Homo sapiens: one gene and its partner. The protein of the gene in region 2 interacts with the protein of the main gene of each other region in a pairwise test. Each region holds a gene or a part of one and is shown on either strand. Other genes may lie near its edges.

Region 1 (3,750 bases), on a different chromosome or scaffold from region 2:
TAAGGATTATTTTCATATTATTAATTTAATTATAATATTATTATCTTGGTAACTGAAAAGTAGATCCAGACAGTCCCCAACTTAACGGTGGTTTGACAAGATTTTTTGACTTTATGATGGTGTGAAAGCAACACCCATTCAGTAGAAACCATACTTCAATTACCCACACAGCCATTCTGTTTTTAAATTTCAGTACAGTATTCAATAAATTGCATGAGATATTCAACATTTTATTATAAAACGGGCTTTGTGTTAGATGCTTTTGCCCAACCGTAGGCTAATGTAAGTGTTCTGAGCATGTTTGCAGTAGCCTACTGATGTTTGATAGGTTCCGTGTATTAAACACATTTTCAACTAATGACATTTTATTTTTTTGAGACGGAGTCTCGCTCTGTCACCAGGCCGGAGTGCAGTGGCATGATCTTGGCTCACTGCAACCTCCGCCTCCCGGGTTCAAGTGATTCTCCTGCCTCAGCCTCCAGAGTAGCTGGGACTACAGGCGTGCGCCACCAGGCCCAGCTAATTTTTGTATTTTTAGTAGAGATGGGGATTCACCATGTTGGCCAGGATGGTCTCCATTTCTTGACCTCATGATCCGCCCGCCTTGGCCTCCCAGAGTATTGGGATTACAGGAGTGAGGCTCCACGCTGGGCCTCAACTAATGATATTTTCAATTTACAATGGGTTTATTGGGATGTAACTCCATCCTAAGTAGAGTAAGTAGAGGAGCATCTGTACAAAACAAGCTCCCTACCCTTCCACTATGTACCTAAGAGCAGGACATACATTTTCAAAGGTGTCCCACCTCCTCTTTCTACCAGGGACAAAAGTTAGTCACCAGAGACAACTTTAGACCCTTATCAGCCAGCGATGGCGCTAGAAGAACCTACATAACACACTTTACTCACTACCTGTAACTACCATTAGTTTCTCGTATCTCTGCCTTCCCACTCTGCTGTTTTTGGAAACTTCAAACTGCTTTCGCCATTTCTCCCCAGTTATTGTTCTTTATTGTAAATGCTACGTAATTCCCCCATTCTAAGCCACCTGTTTGAGTTACTCTTCCTTGAGTTTTGCCCATATAAGATGTACATGTTACTAAATTTTTCTTTTGCCAATCCGAGCTTTGTGATAAGGGCCGCAGTGGAGAACCTAGAAAGGTAGAAAGATTTTCCCCCCTTCCTACAGCCCCAAGGAGGGTTTGAGACACGGGTTCCGTTTTTTTCCTTCAGCTCCTCACTTTGTAGATTCCATTCAGGTCATTCCCCTTCCGTCACCATGCCCTTTTTTCATTGAGTAGATATATCTGATGGGCCTGGGGTTTTCTTAGGTACATTTCAGGCCCAGGGGAGACACAGTTTCATTCTTTTTTTCTTTTTTATCGGACAGCCTCCTGAACCAGAAGAGGTTCAGAGCGACTCCCACAGTTTCACTCTTGAACTTGGGTATTTTCCAAATTGCCTCAGCAAAAGGCTGCTGTAGTCGGTCTTCGTAGCTTCCTTCTCCAGGGTATCCTAGCGGCGCGCAGTGCAGGAGCCTCGCACCGCTCCCCGACGGCGGCTGCCAGCTTCCAGACAGACGCCGACCCGGTGTTCGCAACCAGGGCGCAGGCCGGGCCCGGAGCGTTTAGAGCGCCCGCCCCTCGGTAAGGAACCGTCCCTGAGCCACAGGGCCTGACGCGACTGCAGAAGGAGCGTGGGGTCCTCCGAGGTTCCCCTTCTCTAAATGTGCACCTTCCTCAGGGAGACCTTGTGCAGCTGAGGGAAAAGTCACCACTCAGGGTTTCGGGCCGGGGACCCAAATAAAAGTGCTGCCATCAGCAAAAAAAGAAAAAAAAGGCACGAAGAGGAGGTGGGCGGATTCCCAAGGCGGTTTCGCCCACTAATTTTGCCCAGAGATGACTCTGAGGTCTCTGAGCTTAATGCTTTTCAGCTGTTGTGCAGACTCGCTTTGCCCTCTTATAAGCCCACTATGGGAGTTCCCGCTACACGCCGGCCCAGGGGTACAAACGACAACGCGCCGCCCTTGGAGCGCGTCGCCGGGCCCCGCGCTGCGCAGCCTCCAGCGGCGCTGCGTGCCCTTCCTTTTGCCCGTCTCCAAGATGGCGGCGCCGCCGCCGCCCCTCCTCCTCGCCGCGCAGAGCCGCGCTGCGCCGCGCGCTCCCGCCGCCCCTCCCCACGCGAGCTCCACCCAGGTCGCAGGCAGCGCGGTCGGCGGCGGCTATTTCCCGCCATTGTGCGAAGTGAAGGCTAGGGGCCCGTACGCGCCCGCCTGACTGTCGCCAGCAGCTCCTCGGCGGCCCCACCGCAGCCGCCGCTCCCTGAGGCGCGGGAGGCCCGCGCCCCGCGGCTCGCTGTGCGTGGGAGGGCGCGAGCGAACGCGGGCGAGGAGCGGCCGAGCCGCTGAAGAGGAGCTGGGCGCCGGCCGCCCGGCCGCGCTCGGCCCGCGGATCGCCTCCGCCCGGTCTTCGCCGGCCCCGGCCCCTGGCGAGATGCCGTGTGGGGAGGATTGGCTCAGCCACCCGCTGGGAATCGTGCAGGGATTCTTCGGTGAGTGGCGGCGCCGGGGGGCGGGCCGGGCGGGCAGCCGAGTTTGCCGGGCCCCGGGGCAGGGCCCCGCCGCGCGGCCCCCACGCGGTACCATCTCGAGGGCTCGCGTGGCCCGAGACGGGGCCCCGGGGCCTGCACCGGCCCCAGCTGGGACAGCCTCTCCCCCGGTCGCAGCAGGCAGGGGCAGGAGCCGGGCCGCAGGTACCTCCCACCTGCCCGAGTCGCAGCTTGGGAGCCGCCAAGGTGAAGTCGTGGGGCGCGGGCTGTGATTCGCGGGCTGTGATTGACGGCCTCGCTCCCAGCCTGTGGCAGGGCCAGGGCCCCGGCCCCGGGCGCAGCAAACTCGGAGGTCCTCGAACCCTGGGGAGGGCCCGCAGAGCCGCGGGGAGGGAAAACCACTTTGCCTGTGGGAAGCCCACAGGATATTTCAAAACTTCCGGTGCGTCGGGGAGTGCTCGCTTGCACAGAAGTTGGTTCTAACTCCTGTGCTACCCTCATTCTCTCTTTCAGAGATAAGATTTAATGTTCATAGCTTAGTTTTCCTGTTGGGATGACTTTAGAACCCATCTAGTCTGGATCTGCTCCTGTGCCAGAGCCAGCAAGAAATATTGAGCTACTTGAGTTTGTACACAGGGCTGAGAATCCTGCAGGCGAGCTTAGTAAATTTTGGTTGCGATTGCTGTTGCTACTTTACTGCGAAGGGTATACGAAGAAAAGTTTATATTTGTTGTCGTTAACTGGGCATTTTGACAACCGTTCCATTCCCCAGTGTCTTTTTACACGTAATGAGTGGCGGAGTCAGATCCAGCTAGAAATCACTGTAGATGGCAACACCTGACTTGTCTGGAGTTAACTTAGAGTTGTAGAGCGGCCTTAGCTCATTGAAAAAAACATCTTGGGGTACTAGAGAGAAAAGGCAGTGGGAAGCTAAATCATCCTCAGCAGCCAAAATCGACGGCAAACAATGTATGGTATTTCTTATAGGAGGGCCTCTAGTGCTTACTCAGGAAGTCCTTATTAATTTACCTGTAATTCTAATTAGTTTAGTTACCTGGCTTCCCAGGCTGTAACTAATGGCATTATATTAGAAAAAAGCCTGGATAGACGTCCGAACTTAGCCAGTGAACACTGACAGCCTGATGAAGAAATTTAAAACTACCTTCATACTTGAAAAAAAAAAAAATTCACTATATAGCAGTCA
Region 2 (3,750 bases):
AAGAATTCATATATACTGTGTCGGAAGAAATAGGTTTGGACAGAGCAGCCGTTATTATACATGAGCAAGGCAAAGAGACAGCATAGCAGCTGTGAAGAAATAACGTAGGAAGAAAGAAAGACATTTAATATGCCCAGTAAAAGACCTCACTGTAGACAAAATTATAATCTAAGGAACAAATGAAAATTTCCCATGAGTGTTTCATGTTTGATAAGAACATTAATGAAATAGCTCAAAACAAAAAGATAAGGCTATGAGAGACAAATTGATGACTAACAATGTTATTAAACTAATATATAAAATTGACACTGCTGAATGAGAAATTATAAAGAGGAAAGGCTTGAGATAATTGCAGTGAATGCAAAAGAACAAAGCTTAATACAATTAGAGGGGAAGTAACAGAGATAGAGAACAAAGGAAATTCAACATAATTGGTTCCATGAAGTAGAAAACCCAAACATGAAACCAGAAATGGATTCAAGGATAGAAGAAAATCTGTTGAAATAAACTAAAGGCACTGTATGTGCCAGGAATGTCATGTCTATTGCACAAGTTATTGGGGACTCTCTAACATTAGTTTACAATATTTGTCTTCCCTGCTCCCCATACCAGTTAGGTTAGCAGCTGGGGATCAAAAAGACTAATCAGCAGTTATTTTCCATATACTCCTCTGTGCTAGTAAGGCTTACTTAGGTATAGAGTAGATACGGAGGGGTTTAACCACAGCAAAGCCCTTCAGATGTGACCCCCAGATACTAACCTAACTGGTATGGGGAGAAAGGAAGACAAGCATTACGAGGTAATGTTAGAGAATCTCCAATAACTTATGCAATAGACATGACATTCCTGGTACATACAGTGCCTTTAGTTAGTGGTGGTGCATTGTATTATGTTTAAAGAGATTAAGTGATTTCCCTATAAGTGCATACAAGTGTATAGTCAATACCTGGTATAGGTTTTGAAATATACTTATTAAACATAATAAACTTACTATATGTGTATTGAGGTATACTTATTAAATTGTGCATGTGTGTTTGTGTGTGTATGTAACATCACACCCATTTGAATTTAACTCCTTAAGCATTTTGAGAATTACTCTTACCTCCTCTTCGTTTTTGTAATCCTCACAACATAGTGCTGTGCGTATGAAAAATGCTAAAGGAAGAACTATTACACAAAACTTAGTTAAATAAGACAAATGTATTAACTTGCTGCAGAACAAACAGTAATTCTCCATTGTATGACATTTTATAATTTTAACTGCTGAAACAAATGGAAATAATTATTGTGAAACAATTTCTATCCTATAAAATTTGGAACTTGACCAAAGAAAAAATGTTTTTTCTGCTTTATTCTACTTCGATTGTAGGTATTTGTGGAATCGATGAATTTGATAAGATGGGGAATCAACATCAAGCCTTGTTGGAAGCCATGGAGCAGCAAAGTATTAGTCTTGCTAAGGCTGGTGTGGTTTGTAGCCTTCCTGCAAGAACTTCCATTATTGCTGCTGCAAATCCAGTTGGAGGACATTACAATAAAGCCAAAACAGTTTCTGAGAATTTAAAGTAAGTCTCTTCAAATATTTATACCTTTAATGTATTGAATCACTTTAATTCAATAAGAAAAAGAAATAGTTCACAGAACTACAGGGGAAAAACATGGATATTTCACAGAAGTTATAAATGTCCAATAAATGCACAAAAATGTGCTTAAACACTGCAGAGTAAAACAATGAAGTACGAATGAGATCCACCAGATTGGCAAACATTTTAAATATTAATCATTTTTGGCAAAGTAGTGTGGAAATGGTTTCTCAGTGGCTGGGCGGGTGGCTTATGCCTGTAATCCCAGCACTTTGGGAGGCTGAGGCAGGTGGATCACCTGAAGTCAGGAGTTTGAGAACAGCCTGGCCAACATGGCAAAACCCCGTCTTTAGTAAAAATACAAAAATTAGCCAGGCATGATGGCAGCCGCCTGTAATCTCAGCTACTTGGGAGGCTGAGGCAGGAGAATTGCTTGAACCTGGGAGGTGGAGGTTGCAGTGAGCCGAGATTGTGCCACCACACTCCAGCCTGGGTGACAGAGTGAGACGCCATGTCAAAAAAAAAAGAAAAAGAAATTGTTTCTCACATACACAATTTATTATTTTGTGGGACCCCTTGGTGTGTTGATCACAATTCTAAATGCACATTCTGTTTGTTATAGCCACTCTACTTTTAGGACTACTGTTCACAGAAATAGTCATACAAGTGCACAACGATAGGTTTATAGCATGGGTATTGCAGCATTATTGCTGCCAAACATTGGAAACACCTTAAAACTATAATAAGACTGTAGTGATTATGAGAACGAAAGTGGCTTTATATGTACTAATGGGGGAACATGTCTGTGCTGTACTATTAAGTGAGAAGAGCACATTAACAAACTTAAATATGTGGTATGATCCTGCTTTTTTCAAAAACAATGTTTATATCTGTATGTATGCTTTCTCTTCTAATTCATTCTGTACAGCTTGGACAAAATGTGTGGAAAAGGAAAAATATATTTAAGTGATACAAAAGTGAGAAAAAGACAAAAGAGTACCTCCTGAAAAATTAGAGCCTTAAGCCTAGTGGGGGTGGAGTTAATTTCTTGTTGTTTAATAATGTATCAATATAGAAACAGTCTTTGATACATAGTGAAATACACAATGTGTACTTGGAGATTTAGGGTATTTACCACCACCACCAAAAAAATCAACCTACTAGTAGTTTTTCTTTAGTAAAATGACAAAGTGCTATATTAGAAAAATCAGAAAGATCTATTGAACAAAAATCCAGCAGACTTGGATTCTGTTTTTTAATGGTATCATGAACAAAATACTGAACTAGCTAACCTCTGATATGTCATGTAGCAGTATTGCCAATTAGTGATAATAGGACATGAAGAATTCAGTGGGTTTGGGGGTGTGAGAAAGAGCCATGTCCTCAACCTACCCAGGGTAGATACATGTAATTCTTGTGCCCATGTTGCAGTGGTTGGATATATCGAATCCAAGAAGCTATTTGCTTATTTCTTTAACCTAAATCTTGGTTTTTCAAGTTCTGCGTGGAACTTGAGTAGTAAATAAGTGAGTAGACAGTTTTCTAGTTTTTCCTTTTGATTCCAATCATTGTTTCTTCTTTCTTTCATCCTTCATAGAATGGGGAGTGCACTACTATCCAGATTTGATTTGGTCTTTATCCTGTTAGATACTCCAAATGAGCATCATGATCACTTACTCTCTGAACATGTGATTGCAATAAGAGCTGGAAAGCAGAGAACCATTAGCAGTGCCACAGTAGCTCGTATGAATAGTCAAGATTCAAATACTTCCGTACTTGAAGTAGTTTCTGAGAAGCCATTATCAGAAAGACTAAAGGTATAAATGTTTCTTCTCCTTATTCAGTTTGGTTCTGTTTGAATGTCAAAGTTCAGTGTGTGGCTTATTGTAGAGCAGTAGGATACAAACTTTTTTTTTACCAGAACTTTTTAATATTTCCATACTAGAGTTTACGTAAACTTCATCTGAAATAATCCAAGTCGGCCTGGCGTGGTGGCTTATGCCGGTAATCCCAGCACTTTGGGAGGCCGAGGCAGGTGGATCATGAGGTCAAGAGATCGAGACCATCCTGGCCAACATGATGAAACCCCATCTCTACTAAAAATACAAAAATTAGCTGGGCATGGTGGTGCGTGTCTGTAATCCCAGCTACTTGGGAGGCTGAGGCA

The links.
Region 1: the proteins of MCM8 (region 2) and MCMBP interact in binary tests that used the Homo sapiens proteins (3 or more experiments, as listed by UniProt).

Annotation. Positions count from the first base shown.
Region 1 is NC_000010.11:119,871,326-119,875,075, reverse strand, and holds the start of MCMBP (mini-chromosome maintenance complex-binding protein), read left to right. Parts: upstream 1-2,232; 5' UTR 2,233-2,491; coding exon 2,492-2,549; intron 2,550-3,750. UniProt on the Homo sapiens protein: Associated component of the MCM complex that acts as a regulator of DNA replication.
Region 2 is NC_000020.11:5,981,601-5,985,350, forward strand, and holds part of MCM8 (DNA helicase MCM8), read left to right. Parts: intron 1-1,369; coding exon 1,370-1,565; intron 1,566-3,180; coding exon 3,181-3,400; intron 3,401-3,750. UniProt on the Homo sapiens protein: Component of the MCM8-MCM9 complex, a complex involved in the repair of double-stranded DNA breaks (DBSs) and DNA interstrand cross-links (ICLs) by homologous recombination (HR).